Regions from separate parts of the Homo sapiens genome. Here all the other regions are linked to region 1. The links come from fine-mapping of genetic effects on gene expression. A gene starts in region 1. Each other region holds a variant in brackets. All regions are shown on one strand. Distances are from middle to middle.

What was found. PIP is the estimated chance that this variant, and not a neighbour inherited with it, causes the effect.
Region 2: its variant is the best candidate, but not a certain one, in a credible set for the expression of SEPTIN2 in nasal epithelium (TOPMed, PIP 0.50).
Region 3: its variant is the best candidate, but not a certain one, in a credible set for the expression of SEPTIN2 in whole blood (TOPMed, PIP 0.61).
Region 4: its variant is the best candidate, but not a certain one, in a credible set for the expression of SEPTIN2 in monocytes (Quach 2016, PIP 0.82).
Region 5: its variant is the best candidate, but not a certain one, in a credible set for the expression of SEPTIN2 in lung (TOPMed, PIP 0.85).

Annotation. Positions count from the first base shown.
Region 1 is chr2:241,313,274-241,318,378 of GRCh38, forward strand. It overlaps SEPTIN2 (septin 2), which reads left to right and starts at 2,652. Exons shown (of 13, transcript NM_004404.5): 1 at 2,652-2,709. It overlaps HDLBP (high density lipoprotein binding protein), which reads right to left and starts at 2,399. Exons shown (of 28, transcript NM_005336.6): 1 at 2,297-2,399. RefSeq lists enhancers at 1,375-1,424, 2,305-2,354, 2,375-2,474, 2,400-3,124, 3,115-3,174 and 1 more and silencers at 1,655-2,034, 2,575-2,924.
Region 2 is chr2:241,334,820-241,339,924 of GRCh38, forward strand. It overlaps SEPTIN2 (septin 2), which reads left to right. Exons shown (of 13, transcript NM_004404.5): 4 at 307-393; 5 at 1,156-1,279; 6 at 2,563-2,697; 7 at 2,854-2,971. Among named protein-coding and RNA genes, the nearest start is that of FARP2, 19 kb to the right of the region's middle. The variant A/G (reference allele first, on the strand shown) is at 2,207.
Region 3 is chr2:241,284,811-241,289,915 of GRCh38, forward strand. The region is part of intron 1 of HDLBP (high density lipoprotein binding protein); the gene reads right to left. Among named protein-coding and RNA genes, the nearest start is that of HDLBP-AS1, 15 kb to the left of the region's middle. The variant C/T (reference allele first, on the strand shown) is at 1,904.
Region 4 is chr2:241,253,403-241,258,507 of GRCh38, forward strand. HDLBP (high density lipoprotein binding protein) reads right to left here. Exons shown (of 28, transcript NM_005336.6): 6 at 3,198-3,404; 7 at 2,782-2,997; 8 at 1,972-2,178; 9 at 1,649-1,756; 10 at 1-95. Among named protein-coding and RNA genes, the nearest start is that of HDLBP-AS1, 16 kb to the right of the region's middle. The variant C/T (reference allele first, on the strand shown) is at 2,577.
Region 5 is chr2:241,272,925-241,278,029 of GRCh38, forward strand. The region is part of intron 1 of HDLBP (high density lipoprotein binding protein); the gene reads right to left. HDLBP-AS1 (HDLBP antisense RNA 1) reads left to right here. Exons shown (of 2, transcript NR_168372.1): 1 at 1-760; 2 at 1,079-4,015. Among named protein-coding and RNA genes, the nearest start is that of HDLBP-AS1, 3.3 kb to the left of the region's middle. RefSeq lists a silencer at 1-133. The variant G/A (reference allele first, on the strand shown) is at 2,410.

The DNA of each region.
Region 1 (5,105 bases):
ATCCTCTTTTTTTGTTGGCTTTTTGAGACACAGTCTCACTCTGTCGCCCAGGCTAGAGTGCAGTGCTACAATCTCGGCTCACTGCAACCTCCGCCTCCTGGGTTCAAGCGATTCTCATGCCTCAGCCTCTTGAGCAGCTGGGATTACAGGCGCGCGCCACCATGCCAGGCTAATTTTTGTATTTTTAGTAGAGACAGGGTTTCACCATGTTGGTCAGGCTGGTCTCGAACTCCTGACCTCAAGTGTCCACCCGCCTCGACCTCCCAAAGTGCTGGGATTACAAGCGTGAGCCACTGCACCTGGTCGAAAAGACTATATCCTCTCAACCTTTGTATCTGCAGAACCCTTAACCCTACACAGCAATTTCCAGCAAATATTTTTTTGAATTGAAATGAAGAAGTGAGGTCATGAGGCTGAAGTCAGACAACTGGAAGGCCAAAACAACAAAACCTGGAAAAATACGTATTTACTCAAGAAGAAATTCTCCCACCAGGCCACTGAGAAGTTAGCTTTGCCCACTGGAGAGGACACTGTAACAGGGATTCAAGTAAGCCTAGTGGCGCTGAGGGACGTGATATAGGTCAACTATATCTTTGAGGTGCTCTCCTTACACTCAATGCACTTTTACCCGAATGACGTTAATTTGACTCCTGATAAGATGAGCTAAGTCCCTTCAACAGTGCTTGGCACCAAGCAAAACTAATAGCAGTAACAGGAAAGTTTAATCCTCATGATGAATTATTTAATGGGGTTTCAAACGCTGTCCCTGAGACTTGAGGCAGTAGGCTCCAGCTCCATTTTCCCCAAGTCTAAAACTTGATAGGTTGATGTTTCAGACTCAGAGATTCGGTAATCCAAATGATGGAAATAATTCTTACCCAAACACCTTTTCAACTATTTTTAAATACTGTTGCCAAGCATCCTAATATCATGTGTACTTAATGAATTTAGCCTAGGGATACTTTTACATGTCAAAAAATCAAAATATAAACCTAAGCACTACGTTTCATCCAGTGTTTCAGCATCCCAGATTTGCTTCCCTAAATGAACATTAAGCTTATTATGCAATGTGCCGCTACCAGGAGCCTTAGACAAAACCCTAATTGTGACTTAACCTATCTTAATAGGGTTTTAAGGAAGTTAGCTGCTAAGAAAGTGACTATCCTTAAGCAGACACCAAATAAATGTGAAGTCATTGATTGAGGGCTTAGGGTATAGGTAGCTATGAATCTGAGGACATAAAACGCAAAACTGAGGGGCAAATCGTCATGTTCCTTAAGATTACGACTCATCCACATTCCTTCAGCCGTTTAATTTCACCATAATAGGCACTGTTTAATAAGCAAAGCCCAAGTCGACTTCCTTCGATTTTACATGGCGTCCAAACACCATGTCAAGTCTGACCCTCTCATTTTTTAAGTCGAATGGAGAGGATATGTAGCAGCTAGCCTTGAGCACCTAACCACTTTTCAAAGGAGCTACGCACAAAAATACCCTAGCAACATGCCACGGTGTCAGAAAGGCTCAGGTTCCCAACACCATGCGGGTCAGCCATTAGGAACTCAGGAAGTGTTTCCTCTAAGCGGGGGAAACCTAGGAAGGCTTCCTGAACGAGGGGTATTTGCGCCAAGCCTTGACGTGAGTCTCGAACAGTTGCAGTGCCTCCAGGCCACGCGGGAGGGAGGAAAGGACACCCCGGGCCGGGGCACAACCCGCGGGCCGGAGCCGCCCGCGCCCATCCCGCTCAGGCCGCAGCCAGGCACGGCACCCTCCCGTCCCCGAGCCACGTCGCTGCTCGTGGGCTCGCGGAGCACTCCCCAGGTCTCACCTCGGGCCCCACACCAGAAGGAGAAAGCTAGGGGCCGCGCCAGCTCCGCCCTCCCCCGCGGGGCGGCGGGCCCCAGCCCGGGCACAGGAAGGCCACGTCCCCGGGGAGGGACGCCCGACTCGATGGTCTGCGCAGGGCCCGTCGGCCCCACGTGACGTGCGCGCAGCCAATCCCAGAGAGGCCCCCCGATCATCGAGACGGCGGCGGTGGTGGGCTAGACGAGTTTCGCGCGGCCGCTCGCCGTCCCCCGCCCAGTCGTACTCGGCGCCCCAGCTCGGTGCTGCCGCCATCTTCTTGGAGGACAGGAGGAGAGGCGAAGGCTCCCCCTCCCCGTGATCGCTCCGCACTCCCGCCACCACCTGCCCTCCCGCGACCGCCTCTCTCCTCCTCAGTGGGCACTTGTCTCCTTCTAACAAACGGCCTTCCCCCCACTCCAGTTACCCACCGCAAGGCGAAGATTCTCATTACCTGTTCCACTCTTATAAGCATAAGAAAACCGAGCTCATAAGGTAGGAACTGTGGCGAAACAGGGACAAGCCGCCATCTTGGTAAAGGAGAAGAGGCTACGCTTGACCTCCCCCCCCACCCCCAGCCTCTATATGGCCAACTGCCGTGGGAGGAGCACGGCGCTTGCGCAGAGGCGGACAACGCGGACGACTCTGGGCTTGCGCACTCGGAAGCCGGCCGCATGGGGGAGGGGAAGAAGGCCAGGTCGCACTGAGCCAGGAAGCAGTTGGCAAAGGGGCGGGGTGACGCGGTGACGCAATCCGCCTGCGCGCTGGGCGGGGCGGGGCGGGCTGGGGCGGGCTGTGAGCGGACCGCGAGCGCTGGGCGGGTCCGCGGCGCGGTCGGTCGGCGCCTGTTCTCGGGCTGTTTGGCGGGTGAGTGTCTCGCCGGTGTACCCCGCACAAGTTGTGGGCCGGCCCTCCCGAGGAGCTGCGGGGGACGCGCCGCTCGTCCCATACTCTCGGGCGGTGGTCGGCTGGCTCTGGGGTGCCGGCGGGGCGGTGTGGGGGAGGGGCGGCCGAGCCCAGGCTCTTCGGCACTTATCGTGGGCTCCCCCGTCCCGGGCGGTCCTAGTGCCGGCGACAGTGGCTCCGACACGGGCAGGCCCGGGCGCGGGAGTGGGGATTCCGGTGACCCCTTGTTGACCCTGCGGGAATTCCTCTGCACTGTCGTCGGTGCTGGGCCTCGGGGCGTCGAGTGCGGTCGAGGTCGGGAGGTTTGGTGCTTGGAGGGAGGATACAGGTTTAGGCCCGACAAACACTTAGAGCTTGTGTGGCCATCTTGTCTTTCTAACGGTGCCATTTCCTCCCTGAGGCGTGGAGGACTGGCCAGCCCCCAAACCTCCAAGCCCATCGGCTGGATGCCGTGGATAAGCGAGGGGAGAGCGACTAGGCCCTGTCTGCGGGTACCTTCGGCGAGGAGAGGCGACGAAGGTCTGCACCAGCGAGGCACGGACAGGCAGCAGGGGGTAGGGTATAGGGTTGGAGGCCGCCGAGTTGGCCCGGGGATGAGGAGCAAACCTGTGGCTTCCGTGGTCTCAGTGGAGTCCCAACTGTGACCTGGCCTACTGGCCCAGACAAACCTGGCTTGCTTTTTTACCTTTTCGGTCTAATTCTTGTCAGTGCCACCAGACCTTGTCCTCTCTCCACGGAAACACACGAACCAACTACACTGAACTTCTTGTAGTTCAAACTTCTGCACCTTTGGCCATTGCCCAAACTCTTAAATCTGGCTACTTCCCACCTTAACTGCCTTCTCCTTACCTAGTCTGTGCTTGTGGGATTCCGCCCAAATTAGATTTCCTCCAGACAGGCTTAGGTGTTTACCTGATGTTCCAGATGGTATTTGTCCAGTGGACTATTGGTGCTGTGAGGGCAGGGCACATGTTGTCACCCATACTCATTGCCTCGGTTGGTGTCTAGCACCTAGTAGGTTCTCAAATACTTTTTGAATCACAGTGCCTGCCGATATATTTAATGTTTCAAAATAGTTCTGCCGTCATAAAGAAAAACATCATGGTGTAGGGGTCATGAAAGCTGATTCTTGATACTTCTGATTTGAGCCTCATTGTTTTCAGTGATTTTTGATAGCTCCCATTAATGGGTTCTTTGCACCACCCAGCATCCTAACTCATGATGTGTACTGTTATGTATAATCTTGGCATTGATCTCATTAGCTATAAAGGTTGTCCTGATTTTTTTTCCTCAACTTCCACCTTGATTTCTCTCACCAGTGCCACAGCCAGGAATAAAGAACAAGAGCGTTTTAATTAGATCAGATTTACATTCTGACTGGCTCTTAAACTAGCAAGGTGACCTAGGGAAAGGGGCCAGGGTTTCCCTCTATCATTCATAAATGTAATTCAGGGCCCCTTTTTATCCCCAATACCAGCATACAGAAACTGCTGTAAAAGAAGAAGTTGTGGGTATTTTTTTTTTTTTTTTTGTCTGGAGGAATGGGGACACCAAAACTCATTTGGCAGCAGAGGTGAGGTAAGGCCATTTGTATTGTCTGTTCTGTTAGTAGTCATACATGCCACTTATCCCTGCCCCAGTCCCTGTTAGGAGTGTTATGTGGGTATACTGAACGTGGACCTTCCCCGAATCCAAAGAATCCAGATGCTTTGAATAAGATCATGGACCTTCCGGGTTCTACATCGCCAGATGTTGTTCATCTTCTATCTTTTGTTTTGCGAAAATTGGTTTTTTATGTGTATTGGGGTTATTCTGTGGAAGAAATAAGCTGTGGGTCAAGATTAAAGAACTTTAAACAACTTCTGGCATGTGGAATAAACACGATCTGAAGGAACAAAATTTTCATTTGACTACATTTTTGGTCCAATTTGCACCCAGTGTTTAAGTTAATCACAGTGCTTGGCAGTTTGTGTTGCTGGATCAAGGCTTTCTCACTGAAAACCATGTGCTTCAGAGGTTCATAATTCCTCTTTCACCTTCCATTTCACATTAGTTAATAAATTATGAGAGAAAACATTGTGGATCCAAGTTATGTTTCAGAAAAAAAAAAACAGGAAAAAAAAAAGATGGCAGGAGAAACTTGGTAAAGTCAAAGCAAAGTTGAAATGTCAGTTTAAGACAAATAGTTTCTCCATTTTCCCATATGTGTGCACAGGGTTCAGTGAGGCTGAGGGGTTCTGTGGAGGTGCGGGAGAGGTGCTCTATGGTATTTCTATGTTGCACTGTGTGGGTTTGAAATCAGATACATGTAATAGGTGATAAGGTAAGTGCCTGCTCTTTTCTATCCTCAGCATTGG
Region 2 (5,105 bases), 22 kb after region 1:
TAAAGTACATTCCTCACATTTGTGAACAGTTATGTTTCTAATTATATGATGTTCAAGTTCTGTAGTCTCATAGACCTGGATTCAAATCTTGGCCCTGCTCTGGATAGTACTCTGACCTTGGGCAAATTAGAGTTTCTTTGAGTACCCTCAAAGATCATACTGCAAACATAGTAGTACTGTAGGTACTAAACACAGAATGATGTTTGTGAGGTACTTAGCCCAGTACCAGGCCTTATGTAAACACTTAACCGATTGAATGGTGTCATATGAATAAGGTCATGACAAGGTTTTTCTTTTTATTTAAAGGTGAATCAGGTCTAGGAAAATCGACTCTCATAAACAGCCTATTCCTAACTGATCTGTACCCAGAAAGAGTCATACCTGGAGCAGCAGGTAAAAACATTCTTATGTTACTGTAAGTGTAATTCTACATGAAAGATGCTGAAGACTGCCTAATTAATATTTTATGTCTTAGCTGTGTGTTTTGTTTGTTCTTGTTCAGCTTTGAACACAAGGAAAACACTTTTATGGGGTAGGTGTGCTGCACCGAGGTCCTTGGATTTGGGTTGTAGACTTTCTTTGACACGTATCCATGGATCCATCCTCTCTTGAGTTTGTCTGTAAAATGTAATAAGTAGTTTCTGCCTATATTAAATATTTGATGGAAGGATTAAGTGAGAATGTTTTACATCAAAAATGCTGTGTAACTAGAAGATTACTAGGATAGATGTTCGAATTCATCTACTGTCAGAAAGTTCCAGCACAGGACACCAGCATCCACAAATGACTGTTGAATGAAATAGGCACACATAGTGAGAGCCTAAGACTTGGGCTGCTGCAAGAATATGTAGCCCTTTCAGAATATTTTTGAATTCAGTTTTTAAATGAATTCGTAAATTGCTTTCTTTTTCCCAGGAACAGAAATTATAATTTTTAACATTTGTGTTTTTAACCTTCCCCAGTAGCACAATAATCTTAGCTTTAACCTTCCCCTTTCTGACTTCTCTGGGATCTTTTTTTCTTAATCCCCATGGTATCTTTGGAGAACCTACCTCTGTAGAGAGGCAGTAGACTCTGAAGTCACCTGTCGTAAGAACGTGAGCTTTCCTCTTCACATGCTGCTTATATTCCCTATTAAGTTTGTTTCTTTTCTAGAAAAAATTGAAAGAACTGTCCAGATTGAGGCTTCAACTGTTGAAATTGAAGAGCGAGGGGTCAAGCTACGCCTGACAGTGGTAGATACCCCTGGCTATGGTGACGCTATCAACTGCAGAGATTGGTATGCTCCCCCATGCCCAGGGATCTGCATTTGTTTACTTAATATACTTCATAAATTTATAGATAGTGTTAATGAGTGATTATTAAGTTTGGGATTGCTGTATATAATAAAACACCTAGACAATTTAAAGCGTGTTAAATGTTGACTTTTTAAATAAGGAATTTTATAGAGAGTAATTTTTTTCTGGTACTCTACTGTAATTTGAGATCGCAAAGCCAGTCATCCATAGACTGCTAGTATAAATGAAACACCTGGATTTGAGCCGTGGTTGGTGACCGAGATACTGTAGTACATCCTTTCTATGTGGAAGGAAGTGAAACCTGTTAGAGAGTGGGTTGAGTCGTAGTGTCTGTAAATGACTGCTCATTGGCATCATTTTCACAAATAAGGAAATGAAGAAGTAGAAGATAGAGCAGTCTGTCACCTGTACCGTGCAAAGAATGCCACTTTTGTTGTACAAACTCCCTCCTGGTTCTATTCCTGTCAACATAAAGCATCAGGTTTCCACCACTAGATGAAAAGGGGAAGGTTCTGTTATCTTTCTCCTACATTTAGGAATTTCTCCCTTCTTACATGTGAAAGTGCTGTACTGTTTCCCAGCTCAGTTAAATGCTGTTTCCCAGCTCAGATAAACCTGTTCTTGACCCATGTTCTCTACCACCCTGTTCCTCTGCCCCTTTTCACAGTCACGTTCCTGAAAAGAATTGGCAGCCCTGGCTGGGTGCGATGGCTCATGCCTGTAATCCCAGCACTTTGGGAGGCTGAGGTGGGCTGATCACAAGGTCAGGAGTTCGAGACCAGCCTGGCCAACATGGTGAAACCCTGTCTCTACTAAAAATACAAAAATTAGCCGGGCGTGGTGGCGTGTGCCTATAATCCCAGCTACTTGGGAGGCTGAGGCAGGAGAATCGCTTGAACCCTGGAAGC[A/G]GAGGTTGCAGTGAGCCGAGATCACGCCACTGCACTCCAGCCTGGGCAACAGTGCAAGACTCAGTCTCAAAAAAAAAAAGAACGAATTGGCAGCCCTGTCTACACTGGCCCTCTCTCAGGTGCATCATAACCTATTCCATTCAGGCTTTTGACTCTCAGCACTTAGGGGCAGTTATGCTTGGCATAGTTTCCAAAAACTTCCATTTGCCAAATCTAAAAGTCAGTCTTCTGTTCTCATCTTGAAAATGAATTATTAAATTATGTATATTTGGGCGGAGGCACTTGTTTTCCCTTTGAAGTCAGGGACCCCCTGTTTTATACCCTATGATTATTGTTAATGTTTCTGTTTCTCTCAGTTTTAAGACAATTATCTCCTATATTGATGAGCAATTTGAGAGGTACCTGCATGACGAGAGCGGCTTGAACAGGCGGCACATCATTGATAATAGGGTGCATTGTTGCTTTTACTTTATTTCACCTTTTGGACATGGGTAAGTAATTGTTTATCGTGGAGAAATGCTTTACTACATGGGTTTGTAAGTTTTACCCAAACTGTGTATTTTAATATAAGAATTAAGATAATTTGAGAGAGAAGAGTTTTGTATGTATTTTTTTTAAATAAGTGACAATTCTAAAATTAATTTTAGACTTAAGCCCTTAGATGTGGCGTTTATGAAGGCAATACACAACAAGGTGAATATTGTGCCTGTCATTGCAAAAGCTGACACTCTCACCCTGAAGGAACGGGAGCGGCTGAAGAAAAGGGTGAGTGAGGCTGGCGTCCTGCCCTCCCTCTGGGTGCGACTCGGGGGCATGGGGATGAAGAAAGGAGTGTGTTCCCACGCTCAGTCTGCTCAGGTGTCGGGAGGCAGGGCGGGAGAATTTTTCCTGCATTTTAGTGGTGGTTTTCAAGGAGAACCTGATGGTTACAAATTTTAATTTTTGCCTTCATGAAGGTATCAAATTTCTATTCTTTAAATTCTCCTTATATTTAAAATGCCCTCGATGAGTAGCAGTTGGTTACACACAAGTACCTTCCATGGGAGTTAAATGACTCAAATATAGAAATGTGATCTCTCCATGAAGTTTGTTATTTTACCTAAATTCTTTACTGCAAATGACCCATACAAGGATGTATCTAAGTAGACTGGTTCTCTGTTCTGTTTGGAAACATAGCAGTTGTCAGCCAGCGAAGCGCCTCTCACCCGCCAGCAGCTCCTGTGGTGTCCCAGTTTTAGTGCCTCTTCCGTGTATGTCTGTAAAGCCTCTTTATTGATTCTCTGCTATATATTTTTAAATTGCTTACTTTGTTCTGATTATATGCTCCTTAAGAAAGTCCAAATAGTTTATATATGCTAAACTCTAAAAATACAAATCCCTAACTGAACATACCGGTACGTGCATAAAAATACAAATCCCTAAATGAACATACCGATCTGTGCGTGTAATCACAGTTGCTGGGGCAGGGTAGGGGGATACAGCAGGGGGTTCAGGCAGGAGGATCACTTGAGCCCAGAAGTTGGAGGCCAACCTCAGCAACATAGCAATACGCTGTCTCTAAAAAAATATATATATATATTTTATATATATAATATATAATTAATAAATATATATAATATATATTACATATATATTATATCTATATTATTTATATTACATATGTAATATATATTATATTTATATTATTTATATAATATATTATATATATTATATTATTTATATGTAATATATTTATATTGTTTATATATATTATATTTATATTATTTATATATAATACATATTATATTTATATTATTTATATATAATATATATAATAAATATATAATATATATAAAAATATATATATTTAATATATCTATAATATATATTATATATATTATATATAATATATATAATTGTACATATATTTATTATATATATTATATATATAATATATATTATAAATATAATATATAAATATATTTATAAATATATATAAATATTATATTTATACATTATATTTATATACATATTATATATACATTTTTATATATTATATATATATAAATATAATATACATATATTTTTTAAAATAAAAGAGTTTCTAGGCCGAGTGTGGTGGCTCACGCCTGTAATCCCTGCACTTTGGAAGGCTGAGGCAGGCACATCACCAGAGGTCAGGAGGTCGAGACCAGCCTGGCCAACATGGCAAAACTCCGTCTCTAAAAAATTACAAAAGTTAGCCGGGCGTGGTGGCGGGCATCTGTAGTCCCAGCCACTCAGGAGGCTGAAGCAAAAGAATCGCTTCAACCCAGGAGGCAGAGGTTGTTTGCAGTCCAGCCTGGGTGACAGAGCAAGACTCCGTCTCAAGAAAAAAAAAAAAGAATTTCTGTAATTACCCACAGAAAGAACAACTGTTAAGTATATATCCTTCTAGAACATAGCTTATGTTTTTGGTTTTGCAGAATGAAATCACATAGTAATACTATTCTGCCATTTGATTTTTCTATTTAAAAATATTTGGAAGCATCCTCATATATATACTGTATCCTAATTCTTCCTGGATGCACAGCATTCCACCATATGAATATACTCTAACTTGTCCAGTTTCCTGCTGATGAATATTTGGCTTACTTTTTGTTTTACTCTGGCCCCTTTTCTTCTTTGACCAAATTTACTGTTTCTTTGCCCCTTGCTCGCTGCTTTTGCTAGTGATACCCTCTGCCTGGAACAGTCTTCCCTCAGATACCTGTGTGGGGAACTCCCTCACTGAGCCCAACGCTGCACACAAGATTTCACATCTCCATCCCCTGCTCTGCTGGTAGCACTCCCCCCACACTGCATAAAGTATTTCTCTAGCGTGTTTTTTGGCTTCTCCTGACCCCTGACCCCAGGTCCTGAGATCAGGAATCTGCTTTGT
Region 3 (5,105 bases), 28 kb before region 1:
TTCCAGCAGCAAAAAGATTAAGACTTGCTGAAGGCTCAATGATCATGAGCATTTTTTAACCAATATTTTATTATTATTTTTTGAGATGGAGTCTCACTCAGTTGCCCAGACTGGAGTGCAGTGGCACAGTCTTGATCTTGGCTTACTGCAACCTCCACCTCCCGGGTTCAAGTGACTCTCCCGCCTCAGCCTCCCAAGTAGCTGGGATTACAGGTGTGCTCCGCCACACCCAGCTAATTTTCGTACTTTTAGTAGAGGCGGGGTTTCACCATGTTGGCCAGGCTGGTCTCGAACTCCTGACCTCAGGTGATCCACCCACCTTGGCCTCCCAATGTGCTGGATTACAGGCCTGAGCCACTGCGCCCAGCCTTAACCATTATTTTAAATTAAAGTATATACCATTGTTTTTCTAAACATGTTACAGCTTTTATATGCACTGGGAAACGTAAAACTCATGTGATGTGCTTTATTGGGATGTCAGGCTTTCTTGTGGTGGTATCACAAACCTGCAGTGTCTCTGCAGTGTGCCTGATGTGCACTGTAGCATTTTTGTAGAGTCAGAAGATTAAACATTTGCATTGGTTCAGTCCGGGACTGGGTAAACAAAGGGTGGCAGAACACAAAGCACTATCACTGACCTCCATAAACGACCTGATGAATGACCAAGTCTCCACCCCCACAGTAAAATATTAATTGATGTCATGAGCAGAGTGCCTTCTAGTGTGCCCTGAACACCGATCCCCACCAGTGATGATGTGTGCTTAGTAAGACTCAGTTTTACTTGCTCTCAAACCTGTTTATGCCAGTTTCACTAGTTAATGTAACTACATTTAGAAATAATTCAAAATAATGAAGGAGTGAAGAGAAATTTATCTATGGATATTAAATTTACCACACTGAAATTTCAAGAAAAACAAGTTGCCTTAAAAAAATTATGGCTGGACATGGTGACTCATGCCTATAATCCTAGCACTTTGGGAGGCCAAGGCAGAAGGATCACTTGAGGCCAAAAGTTTGAGACCAGCCTGGGCAACAAAGTGAGACCTCATTTCTTAAAAAAATAAAAAATAAAAACAATTAGCCTGTGCCTGTAATCCTAGTTACTCAGGAGACTGAGGCAGAAGGATCATTTGAACCCAATTTGAAGCTGCAGTGAGTTACAATCGTGCCACAGCACTCCAGCCTGGGAAAAAGAGCAAGACCTGTTTGTTTAAAAGAAAAAGTCAAATGGAGGAAAACCTTTAAAATCTCAGAGAATCTACACTGATTATGAGTTTCTTAAATTTTTGTTCCACTTAAATGAATGCTGAAAATCCTAGACGACATATTATCAATTTCATTTACATAAGAAGAGAGTATGTGGCCAGGCATGGTGGCTCATGCCTGTAATCCCAGCACTTTGGGAGGTTGAGGTGGGTAGATCGCTTGAGCCCAGGAGTTCAAAACCAACACAGGCAACATAGTCTGAAAGGAAAATAAATCTTGGGGCCCCCAAATCACTAAGTTAAAAGGAAAAGTCTAGCTGGGAACTGCTTAGGGCCAACGTGCTTCCCATTCTCTTCAAAGTCTCCCCTCTGTTCACTGAGATAAATGCGTATCTGACTGCCTCCTTTGGAGAGGCTCATCAGAAACTCCAAAGAATGCAACCATTTGTCTCTTACCTGCCTGTGACTTGGAAGTCCCCTCCCCACTTGGAGTCTTCCTGCCTTTGCTTCGAGCCATCCTGCCTCTCCAGACCGAACCAATGTTCGTCCTGTATATGCTGACTGATGTCTCATGTCTCCCTACAATGTATAAAGCCAGACTGTGCTCTGCCCACCTTGGGCACACGTCATCAGGACCTCCTGAGGCTGGGTCACGGGTGCGCGTCCTCACCCTTGGCAAAGTAAGCTTTCTAAATTAA[C/T]TGAGACTTGTCAGATTTCCTGGGTTTACAATGGTGAAACCCTGTCTCTACCAAAAAATAAAAAATAAAAATAAAAATAAAAATTAGCCAGGCATGGTAGTATGCACCTGTAGTGCCAGTTACTCAGTGTGGAAGCTGAGGTGGGAGGATCACCTGAGCCCCAGGGGTTGAGCAGTGAGCCATGATGGCACCACTGCACTCCAGCCTGGACAACACAGCAAGACCCTGTTTCCAAAAAAAAAAAAAAAGAAAACATGTAGAATCCAGCCAGTCCCATTTCAAATAGGTCTTCACCCTGTATCAAATGACTGGTGATTAAATAAACCTCTGTGCCTCAAAACAGGTCAGTTAAGGGGGCTTTAACCATACACCCAGTGTCAGTGAACAAGAAGAGGCAGTTTGTTGTTGTTGTTTTGAGACAGAGTCTCACTCTACTGCCCAGGCTGGAGTGCAGTGGCGTGATCTTGGCTCACCGAAACCTCCGCCTCCTGGGTTCAAGCGATTCTCTTGCCTCAGCCTCCCGAGTAGCTGGGACTACAGGCGTGCGCCACCACACCTGGCTGATTTTTGTATTCTTAGTAGACACAGGGTTTCACATTGTTGGCCAGGCTGGTCTCAAACTTCTGACACCGTGATCCACCCGCCTGTCTCCCAAAGTGCTGGAATTACAGGCATAAGCCACCGCGCCCGGCCTATTTCTTTCTTTCTTTTTTTTTTTTTTTTCTGAGACAGGGTCTTACTCTGTTGCCCAGGCTGGAGTGCAGCAGCACAATCGCAGCTCACTGCAACCTCTGCCTCCCAGGTTCAAGCGATTCTCCCACCTCAGCCTCCCAAGTAGCTGGACTACAGGTGTGCGCCACTATGCCTGGCTAATTTTTGTATATTTTTTTGTAGAGACAGGATTTTACCACATTGGCCAGGTTGGTGTTGAACTCCTGGCCTCAGTGATCTGCCTGCCTTGGCCTCCCAAAGTGCTGGGATTACAGGTGTGAGCCACTGCGCCTGGCCTGCAGCTATGTGTTACGTTGATATGTAACCAGTCGTGTTAAAAGATATACATGTTTGTACATGCATAAGACCTCTCTAGAAGGAAACTCAAGTCATTGAGAATAGCAAAAGGACAGGAAGTCCAGAGCCCAGTCCTCAACAAGCATCAACATGAACAGCTGGGTAAAAGATGGACTTGAAAAGACAATTCTGCTGTGAAGCTGTAGAATGTGAAGACGGGAGGGAAGACCATGAAAAATGGCACATATTCCTACACCACATACCCCCAAAGTGTGTTTTAATAGGAAACTATGGATGGACATATGCTAAGTGTTTGTGAGAGTTATCAGCAGAAGGGGAAAGCTCTGTATTATATGAGGCTCTTTACTTTTCAACAAAAATACCTCCACCTGGAGAGGGAAAAGAGGACACTTAAGTATCACCAGGTACTACAAATCAGTGAAAAACAGAGTCACAAAATTTATTTTCTCTGCTGTGCTATTCTCATTACAATTGCCACGTTATCTGCAAGACGTCTGAATTAAAATTTTTTTTTGTTAATTTCCTTTTGAGGAAGTGGTGATGACTTTACATGAACCTATTCAAGCCTTGGAAACTGAGAACAAGATACATAAGAGCTGTCTTTACCATGTGGAGAGCATTTAAAGGGGGACTGAGTTCTGTCCAGTTGCCTGCACAACTAAGAACAATTCTGAAGACACATTTCATCTCAACATGAAGAAAAGGATCACTAAGAGTGAGCATGCTTTCCTGAATTAGCACCTAGGAAAAAAAATGGGCAGAGCTTATTCCCACTGTGAAGTGTACTCTCCACTGGGTGATCATTTAACTTACATGACTCCTTAGGGTCTCCTCCATCTTAAGTTTCTTTGACTCACTGAAGAAACAAACCACTGCTTCTAGGTGGAAATGCATCCGTATGACCCATGGGTTTACTGATGTCTCTAACTGCCATGGTAACACTAGTCTGCCACCCTGAGCCGCTGAAAGGTGTTTCATGGCAGCTCCTGCACACACACATACTCCTCACCAGGGCTTGAAGCCCACGCAGGCCCCCACCCCAACTGTAATGGTGTTCCTGGGAAGGGGATGGGAACAGAATGGCTGTAGGAAGGGCCATTCCCCTTTAGTCCTGCAATTTAAAAATCCCTTCCATCTCCTCACTATAAATCTCATTAAACTACAAGAAACAAAATAATTTGAAGTTTGACCCAGGGCAACAATTTACACTTGATGATTTTTTCCTTCCTACAATTTACATAGGAAAGTTCTATGAGCTAGAATTAGCTTAGCTCATGTTTATAAAGAACTCTGTTATGGATACAAAGCTAGCTAACGCCATGGGTGGAAAATACTTAAGAATCTGAAAGATTAATCTTGGGCTCAGTCCTATCCAAATAGAAACAATACTTTTCTACAAACAAGAAAACACACATCAGGAAAACCCAAGTCTTCAGGTTTTCTCCTCTCAAGGGTGGAGAGCATGTGGCACTCCAATGTGCGATCTGCTGCTGACACTGCTTGGCACATCACCCTCTTCACTTGGCCTGCTTCCTCCTTTGTCTCATGAGAAGGTGGGACTGCATCATCTCTCCAGGTACTCTCTTCCTATCAGTCTACTCTTCAGAGATTAAGCCTCACTTTTGGATATAAAGACTCCCTAGAAACGCTTACTTATATAACTGTCTCCACAAAGAGCTAATTCAACATTAAACTGCACGAATACAAGCACAACGTCCCCACCAAAGCACAGGTATGTTCCTCTATGCAAAGTTAGACAATGGAGATACCGGACTCAGATCAGAACATTACCATGTAAGAGAAAAACTGACATACATCCAGGGAGCAGGAACTTAGATGTCTCATCTATAAAGAGAGAAAACTGGGCAGAACAAGAAAACACTATTTCCTACTATTAGAAAACAAGTATCACACCAGGAAGATAAAGACAGCTTCTCTGCAACTCCAAAGGCATCCAAGGACAGGAAGGGGTCAGGATGGCAGAGAAGGAAGATCAGTAATGAGGGGAAGTAGGATCAGAATAGCAGAATGGCTGGCACCAAAGGTAAGGAGTGCCCTCTAAAGGAAACCTCAAGAAGACATTAGGCATCAACGTGGGGTGAGTATGGCAGTGGGAAACTCAAGTATTAGATAAAAAGGAAACTCCAGCTACTGCACGTGTGGGATGAATGGA
Region 4 (5,105 bases), 60 kb before region 1:
ACCATGCCTTCTATCTGTTCCTGGGCCACATTGACATCCTCTGTAGGGCCCTCCAGGGTGATCTTGTCTTCGCCCTCTGTGAACTCGATGTGAACCTACCACACCAAAACCAAAGAGATAGCTAAAACAGAATGGCACAGCTGCAGCCCCTGAGCTCCCAGTGGGAGCTCTCTTCGGAGCGGCTTCTGATCCCAAACTGCTTCACATAGATGTGAGGGAGGGAGGGACATATCCACAGCCATCAAACAAAGTTGAAAGGGAGGGTTAGGGAGCCATAGTCAGGAAACTAAATACTGTGGCCGAATAATCCTGCCTCTCACTAAGGACACCGTTTGCCCCACAGAAGCCACTAACATAAAGCATGCGACATGCGACATGCTCCTCCACCATCTGAACTTTTACAAGGCCTGGTCCTCTTGAGTTGCATAAAGAATGAGACAGAGCACGGATGGAATTTTAAAACTCGTATAGCTGTACCAAGGTGGTAAAGTAACTTGCTTGACATAGACAAGGCTGCCAGAGTTCCTGGTTTATTATCCTCCAGGTAAGGAGTTAAGGAAGGCAGACTGGTCCTTATATGAAGCTATACAAAGTAAAAGGGGCTGGGCACAGTGACTCACACCCATAACCTCAATATTTTGGGAGGCTGAGGTAGGAGGACTACTTGATCCCACGAGTTCGAGATCAACCTGGGCAACTAGTAAGACTCTGCCTCCACGAAAACTAGCCTGGGGCGCCTGTAGTGCCAGCTACTTGGGAAGCTGAGACGAGCGGATCACTTGACCCATGAGTTCAAGGCTGCAGTGAGCTATGACTGCGCTACTGCACCCCAGCCTGGGTGACAGAGTGAGGCTTTGTCACTAAAAAAAAGGAATAAAATAAAAAAAATTTAATTTTTAAAAAGGACTGTAACATTAATTGGAAACAAAGTTTAAATAAAACAGGAATTAAATATGATGGTTGGATTCTCTGGTATTTCTTTTTTGTTCATGTTTCCTGGGGGCTACAATCTCCTTTGGTAAACTGAGAACGCTTTAAATTCACACTTAATACAATTTGTATACAAGTTCTGCTCTTCAAAGTATTTTTTTTTTTTTTTTGAGACAGAGTCTCGCTCTGTCGCCAAGGCTGGAATGCAGTGGTGCCATCTCGGCTCACTGCAAGCTCCACCTCCCGGGTTCACGCCATTCTCCTGCCTCAGCCTCCCAAGCAGCTGGGACCACAGGTGCCCGCCACCAAGCCCGGCTAATTTTTTGTATTTTTAGTAGAGTCGGGGTTTCACCATGTTAGCCAGGATGGTCTCGATCTCCTGACCTCATGAGCCACCGCACCCGGCCCGCCAAAGTATCATGAAGTTATTTCACCATAATTACTAAATGACATGTTTCTTAAGATACTTATGAAACCTAAGAACATACAATCCTCTCTGGTTAAAGGCCAGAAGGATGGTACAGACATCTACAGACATTTATTCTGCTGTTCTTTAAGCTAACACGGAAGTTGACCATGTCAAACAGGCCAGTTAATTCAGAAAAATACACCAGTTTTCAAGGGCATCCACAGTACAAAGGTCAACAAAGCAATATCAGAAACAGAAAGACAGAAAACAAGACAAATTCAATACAACAGGTGAAAAACGTGTCCTTACCTTTGGCATCTGCTGAGTGATTTTGGCCAGGTTCTGCCCTTTCTTGCCAATGATGAAACGGTGAAGCCAGGAAGGGGCGGCGACAGAGGAGACGGTGAAGCTATTGGCCTAAGAAAATGGGAGAACAGCCATGGGTTTGCAGAGCTCAAGGTCGTGTCACAGTGAAAGCCAGGCTGCTCACCTGGGGCTCAGAGGCACGCTCTCCCCAAACCTGGGCACCTGCACTGTGTCCAGGCCCCAGGATTTACAAATCGAGAGCTCATCCATGAAGGCCCCGCGGACTCCACTCAAAGGAGACACACTTCATGCTCGGAGGCAGTTACCTTGGCATAGACTTCAGTCAACGCCTGACCTAACTTTTCAGGTTCGCCTCGAAGTATTACAGTCTCAGAGATGCTGTCTGAGGGTGGGATCTCAACGGAAACTCCAGTTCTCTCAAGGATCTCCTGCAATGAATTGCCCTTGGGCCCAATGACATACTTGTGTTGGGATTTCTTCACTTCCACTGCAATGGTTGTAGTCTTCTTTTTCTAAATAAGAGCACCATAAGGGGCAGTCAAAGGGAAAGGTGTGGGAAGCGGGCAGGTGGGCATGGCCACTGCTGCAGAAAGCAAGCCAAAGCGGCCCAGACTATAGATGCTGATCCCAAGAAGTGAACAACAAGTGATCAGGACTAGCCAATCCCCAGAAACTTCACTGTTCAAGGACTGGATTTTTCCCCTCAGTCTAGTCACCCGCCGGCTGATAACTTCGTCCTTGAACACTGCAAAACACCCAATCCTTTCCCTCAATTAAGGAACACGTTTCAGACCTCAAAGTTCACTAAGCTGAGCTAACAGCTTAATCTAAGACGTGAACAAGTCCGGGATGTGCATCTGACCCGGGGCAGCCCAGCTGGCAGCCTGTCAGCACAGTCAGAGGCCCAGGA[C/T]GGCAAGGACAACTGCCAGGCAGATGCTCAACAGCAAGGGGGGGCGGGCACCGATCTCACCCGGGTCACTCAAGTGTAGAGACAATAAGCATCTTCATCAAGGACAAAAAGATAAGGGGCAGAACCAGGCCTTAACTGAATCTCCAGACCCAAATCCTCATTTCTATTCCTGCCCATGGGGATTTGCCTCCTCTAAATCGTGTACCTTCTCCTCATAAATCTTCTTGATGCGAGCCACAGCCTGAGCCAACTGTTCCTTCTCTCCAGTGAAGACAATCTCTGTCCGGTTCACGCTGGGTGGGGGGATGTTGATGCGCGTGCCTGTCTCCTGCATGATCTCGCCAACCAGTCTATTATACGGCCCAGCGATGAAGGGGTGGAATGCCTTTTCTACTTCTAGCCTCTCCACAGCACGTTTGTCCTGGAAAGGAAGGGATGATCTGATGAGAACAGGCCTTTGAAAACAAACTGGGGACAGACAGGGCTTTTTAGAGTTGGAGTCAAGCCCTCCACCCCCACCACATTATGCCTTGAAGTCCACACTGGACACGGCAACCCATGAGGGAGTGAGGTCTGCACAAGCAGGTAGGCAGGGGCACGAGGCACTCACACAGGCCTCACCTGCTCGGCAGAGATGAGTAAGACTTCATGGCGAGCTTTCTCGATGCCCTCTTTGGTGCCAGTGATCTTGATCTGATTGCTGGGGTCATCTGGGCGTGGGATCTGGATTTTGGTTGCAGTTTTTAGCTCCAAGTCTTGCAGTTTCTCTCCATTTTTGCCAATAACAAAGCGATGGTGTTCTTTGGGAATGGCAACAGTTGCTGAGGCCTATAGCAAGAAGAGAATAAAAGAAAACAAGAATATTTGTAGGTTCTGAAGGAGCATATTTTTCCAAGACATTCTGGCAGAAACACCATCTTTGCTTATTCCTGCCCAGCAGCACCAACTCATCCATTAAAACAGCATGAGCTTAAACATCACATGCTTGGGGAAGGTTGCCCTGACTCCCAGGTTAGGGTAAGTTCGAGTGTATCTGCACCACTACTTAACATCCACTGGAATATACACCCACAAAGGGAGACAAGAGTTAACATCCACAAAAGCTGGACAGGAAGAAGCATGACTGCATATCCAGAAACCCTGAAAAAACTACTGGGTGAAATTCTATTTATAGCAAAGAGAAAAGACTGAAATCAAGAAGTTAACAACATTAACTTCCACAAACAACAACTACTTAGAAGATGTAATGAAAGAGATGCGTTTCTTTTTTTTTGAGACGGAGTCTCGCTCTGACGTCAGGCTGGAGTGCAGTGGTGCCATCTTGGCTCACTGTAACCTCTGCCTCCTGGGTTCAAGGGATTCTCCTGCCTCAGCCTCTCGATTAGCTGGGACTACAGGCGTGCGCCACCATGCCCAGCTAATTTTTATATTTTTAGTAGAGGCAGGGTTTCACCATGTTGGCCCCGATGGTCTCGAATTCCTGACCTTGTGATCCGCCCACCTCAGCCTCCCAAAGTGCTGGGATTGCAGGTGTGAGCCACTGCGCCTGGCCAAAAGATGTGTTTCTAATAGAAAAAAGGAAAAAAGAAAAAAGGACAAGAAAATAGCAAGACACAAGCCCAACACAAGGTGGAGTATGTGCATTCGAAATTAGAAAACACTCCTTAAAATAGCTAACAGAAGGTTTAAGTAGATGGCGATCATCCCAATTAACTTTAAAATATTAATACAATTTCAAACAGTTGATTATAAAGGTTGTAACACAGAACCAACAAAAATGAACAAGAAAACCCTGAAAAAGAATAGTGCAGGGTGGAGGTGTTAACAGTGGTCCTAGACATTAAACATGAAACCATTATCATTAACACAGGAAATACCAGTATACGGAAAGACCTGCTGGTCTGAACTGAAAACCCAGAAACAGAGCTAAGTTAATATAAACATTTAGGACATGATAAAAGCAGCCACTCAAGTTCACTAGAGCAAAACGTCTTTTCAAGACAGTGATGGCACGCCTGTAATCCCAGCACTCCGGGAAGCCGAGATGAGAGGATTGTTTGAGCCCAGGAGTCCAAGATCAGCCTGGGCAACATGGTGAGACCTGACTTCTACAAAAATTTTAAAAATAAGCTGGCCAAGGCCAGGCGCAGTGGCTCACGCCTGTAATCCCAGCACTTTGGGAGGCCGAGGTGGGTGGATCACGAGGTCACCAAAAATACAAAAATTAGCATGGTGGCAGGCGCCTGTAATCCCAGCTACTCGGGAGGCTGAGGCAGGCGAATGGCGTGAACCCGGGAGGCGGAGCTTGCAGTGAGCCGAGATCGCGCCACTGCACTCCAGCCTGGGCGACAGAGCAAGACTCCGTCTCAAAAAAAAAAAAAAAAAAAAAAAAAAAATTAGCTGGCCATGGTGACGTGTGCCTGTGGTCCCAGCTACTGGGGTGGCTGAGGCAGGAGAACTGCCTGAGCCTAGGAGGTTGAGGCTCCGGTGAGCCGTGATCATGCCATGGCACTTCAGCTTATGTGGCAG
Region 5 (5,105 bases), 40 kb before region 1:
CCGCCGCCCCGGGCCGCCCAGCACCCGGGAGGCCCACCCAACTGCAGGCGTGGTTCTGCATCCTTTTTTCGGGTGGGGAAGGCGGTGCCGAGGAGTTGGGAAATTAATCACCTCCAGAAAGCAGAGGGAGCGCGCCCCGCAAGAACCCGAGTGGAAACAACCGAAGACCAGAAAGGGAGCAGGAAGGACGGCTGCTCTGGAAGCAGATGTCACCAGTACCGCCCACCTCCCCAAAATCAGAAGAAAAACCTCAAAGGATGCCCACCACATCGTAAACGGATGGCCACACTGGCACGAGGTCCTACAGCGCAGTGAGGCTCCCAGGCGGCTCCAGGGCTTTCATTCCCTCATTCCTGCGTGCCTATTCCTTATGTCCCTCACTTTTATAAACTATCCCCACCCGATTCCTTGGCAATCAACTTAATCTCCCCCCCAAAATGTAAAATCCCCTTCCTTTAAAGCGTGTATTACTTATGGCTCCATCTCTACATAGATGTATACACGCAAAAGAACCGGTGTGTGGCCTCTGAGCCCACGGTGGATACGCAGGACTGGGCGGAACGGAATCCCTACTCTCGGGGTCTCCACCCTCCGGGAAGGACTTGTCACTTCTGCATCCATTGTGTTTACTAAGTGATAACTGCCACTGTTTCTTTTAAGGGTATAAAGGGAGTCGAGCAATCTGTAGAGATGTCAGTCTGAACCTCTGGCAAAGTCGCAGGTCAACAGAATCCTGCATAGGGCACAGGATCAACTACAGGTATCTGGGGACAAGACCGTCCCACACAGGGGAAGAGGTAGGGGCACACCCAGCCTTACCCAGGGAATGGGGTCAGGTCCGCACAGCCTGCAGCCAGGCCACGGGTGCTGTTGAGGATGGTGGGAGCTGGGTGGGGGCTGCAAGCAGCAGAAGGCAGGATCAGACGTGTTTTTTTTTTTTTCGTGGAACACTGACACTAAGTGGCAGGGGAGGGGAGGGCAGGGGAGGCCTACTATAGTTCAGTCTAAAGATGACAATGGCTTGCATTATGGTGGGCATAATGGAGGAAATAAATGGCCAGATTTGGTATATATTCAGAAAGAAGCACCAAGAAGTTCCTTATTGACCAGAAGAGGGGTGTAAAAGAAGTTAAGAAAGACACAGGTTCTTGGCCTGAGTGACTGGGAAGAGCTGCCCTCACTGAGGTGGGTAAAATTCAAGGAAGACTGGATGGATAAGGGGGTGTGATGCCCTGACTGGGCAGGTGGGGAAGTGGAGCAGGCAACTGTATGTGCAAGGTCAGGGGAAAAGCCTAGGAGCCAGCAGAAATACCATGCACTTCATGACACCACCTAGGGAGGGGAGCAGAATCACAGAAGGCAGAGAACACCTGCGGCTTGACGCAGAGAAGGAGCCAAGGATATCATCAGCAAAGCCGTGCTCTAAGTCAGCAGCACGGAACTGGGCAGGTGGGCCTCCCTAGATGTGGAAATAGGCATTCCCTTCTGTGTCACTGCTGTGGTTTGTTGGTAACCTTTCCGTGGGGATTAACCAATCAGCAACTAGTGCAAGTGTGTTTTTTGTTGCTGTTTTGTTTTTGAGGGCTCAGCACTGCAGAGGGAGATGGAGAAAGAGTAACGGGTAGGGATTCGGTCCGCTGTCAAGGAACTTCCAATAAAGCTAGGAAGTCAGCACAGGCACAGTACCTAGTACACAGGACACCGTAAAGAGTTAGTTTAAAAAACACTGTTAGCAGAAGAGATTACAAAATCATATGCTAACTTTGTGCTAATAACCGTCCAGAATGCTTCTGTGCTGATGCTCACAACCAGCATTTCCTCCCAGCAGGCTTAGCACACTGAAACTAATAAATAGTTCGTAGAAGCAAATTTTAGAAATTCCATGGCTAGCAATATTCAGACCAAATGAAGTGTGAACGTCTGTCTGTGACATTTGAGTTTTCAGCCCTCAAAGGGACGGGGGAGAAGTTTGGGTCTGCTCAAGGTAGGAGGTGAGAAGAGATACCCTCCTATTCCATAAAGTCATGATCCCCAAAAGGGCTACACTTACCAGAAGATAGGTAGATCAAAAAAAGAAGAAGAAAAGCCCACTAGTGTAGAGGGGACTACAGGATGCCTTCTCTGACTATCCTGAGCTGGCAGACAGAAGCATCTCTTGAGCTGTAGGGACAATGGACTAGTACTCTACAACCAAGCCCATTTGTCCAGGAACCCCTAGCCCAAACTGAGATATTAACAAAACAGAAAGCAATTCCCCCCCACCCCGCCTCAGGAAAGAATAAACCTCATACCAGGCTAAAAAGGATACCCACAGATCAGCACAAATGGTAGAGAGGCTAAAAGCCCAAAGCTCAAAAAGAAGGAAGGATGGATTAGAAGTAGGATTAGACTCAAGAACTTCGGGAGACA[G/A]AACTAAGATTGAGACAATAAAAAAGCATAAGAGACATAAAGGTGACATTTTAGAAAAAAAATCGAGAGATGGAACGAATGAAAGAGCTAAGAACCATGGAATGAGAAACTCTAACATATGTCTATAACTGGAGTTCCAAAACAAAAAGAGAAAAGAAAAAATCCAAAGAACAGAGAAGAAACATTTTTTAAAATAGCTGAGAAAATTCTAAGATTTAATGATACAACATTCTTCCCTCATCCCAAAAAAGACAGAGAAGGTGTCTAGCAGGATAATTTAAACTAATCCAAATCAAAACACACTACAGAGTAACCTCAGAGCACCAAAGACAAGAGCAGGACCTTAAAAGCAACTAGAGAGAAAAGACAGGTTACTCATAAAGAATACTATGAGACCAAAGGCAGACCACTTAAAACAATACATACCAGAGGATAATGGCTATATATAAATTATGGCGAAAGAAATAACTGTCAATTTGGATTTAAGAATTCTTTTTCATTTAAGAATGAGAATAGACATATTCAAAGATAAAGCAACTACTACCAATAGATCCCTGCTGACAGACCTACTAAAGGACATATTTCAGCAAGAAAATGAAAGCCAGAGAGACCAGAAAGAAGGAATACTGATAAACCAGCAACCTAGATAAAGTGAAACAAGTGGTGACCCTATACTAATATCAACAATAAAATTTGAAGGGAATTAAATTATAGATAGGTACGTAAGCAGAATATGCAAGTACAAAATAAAATAAAAGACAGAATTAAAATGCTTAGGCAGCAATAATATATAAGGTGGAAGGGGGATATGAAGTTGCAAGGTTTCAAGATTCTTATTATTTGGGGAGAGGCTAGAGATACTAATTTTAGCCCTTGTTGAGAATGAATGTTAAAAATTTAAAGACAATCTAGGAAAAACAAAGAGTTTTTAACATTCAAACTAAACTCTTACTCAAATGGAAGTTATTGGCAATGTTCTAGATCTTGGATTAGGTGGTAGGTTCAGCGGTATTCATTACGATGTACATTATTACTGGTTACATTATACTGTATTAATAATTGTTAAAGAAAAGAGAGAAAACAAGAAAAAAGAATAGGAGGCAAGAAAAGTAAAAGAAGCAATGAAAAAGCAAGGTAAATAAAACACAAAACTGATGAGAGGAATGAATTCAAACCCATCAGTAATCTAAATACGTGTTAACAGACTAAACTGACCAACTCTAACAGCAGCTATAGGCCATTCAACAGTCCTAAACCATACAGACATATAGGCTGAAATAAAGAGATGGAAGAAGTACTCCGAGCAAATACTAACCATATGAAAGTTGGTTATATTATTTTCAGATAACACAGACTGTAGGATAAAAATCATTATTAAGAACAGAGAAGGTCAAGAACTTAAAAATTCAGTAACTCTGATTACATGTATCTAATAACATAGCTGCAAAACATATAAAGTAAAAACTGAAGGTTACTAGGAGAAATTGATATATCCAAGGTTAAAGGGTGAGACTGACCCAACTCTCTTGGTAACACAGGTTATGGGATTGGAAAATGTATAGAGGATGCAAACACAATTAATAAATCTACTTTATTGAACACATGATTAAAAGTGACACCTTTTTAAAAAACCATAAAACCTGGCCAGGAGCTAAAAAAAAAAAAAAAATTAAACAAATAGTAAAGAATTAAATCATAGTAACATTCTCAGACCACCACTCAATTAGAACTCAACTTAAAAATTTAAAGACTATATAAGTTTTAAAACTTGCTTCTAAGTAACTCATGGAACAAGGAAGAAATCTGAAAACATTTAAAACTAAGCCATTAAGCAATTATATATCCCACCTTGTGGAATGAAACAAGATTGTTGCTTAAAGCCTTGTAACTTTAAGCCATCCTATTAGTGAAGAGGAAAAAAATAAAATAAGCTAATCATCCACTACTGAAACTAGAACAAAAAACACCAGAATAAACAAAAGAAAGGTAGAAGGAAATAAAGATAAGATATTAATGAACTAAAAGACATATACCACAAAGGATAAACAAAACCTACATCCAAATTTTTTAAAAGACAAGTTCAATCTCTGGCAAAAATGATTCCTGAAAAAAGGACAGTATAAGTAGGCAATATTAAGAATTAAAAGGGGGTCAAAAACTACAGCTAAAATGGAGACTTTGAAAAATCATGTAAGAATTCTATTGAGAAGAGTAGTGTCAAAAACTCGAAAACAGATGAAATGGGCAAATTCTAGAAAAATAAGTTACCCAAACTGAGTTAGAAATATAGTTTCAATAACCAACCTTCCCCAATCTTCAAAGAAACAAATATAAAACTTACAACAAGGCCGGGCGAGGTGGCTCACGCCTATAATCCCAGCACTTTGGGAGGCCGAGGCGGGCGGATCACCTGAGGTTGGGAGTTCGAGACCAGCCTGACCAACATGATGAAACCCTATCTCTACTAAAAATGCAAAATTAGTTGGGCGTGGTGGTGCATGCCTGTAATCCCAGCTACTCAGGAGGCCGAGGCAGGAGAATCGCTTGTACCTGGGAGGTGGAGGTTGCCGTGGGCCGAGACCACGCCATTGCACTCCAGTCTGGGAAACAAAAGTGAAACTCCATCTCAAAAAAAACCAAAAAACAACAACAACAAAATAATACAACAAAAAGGCGGGTCTCCAAATGCTTTTGTA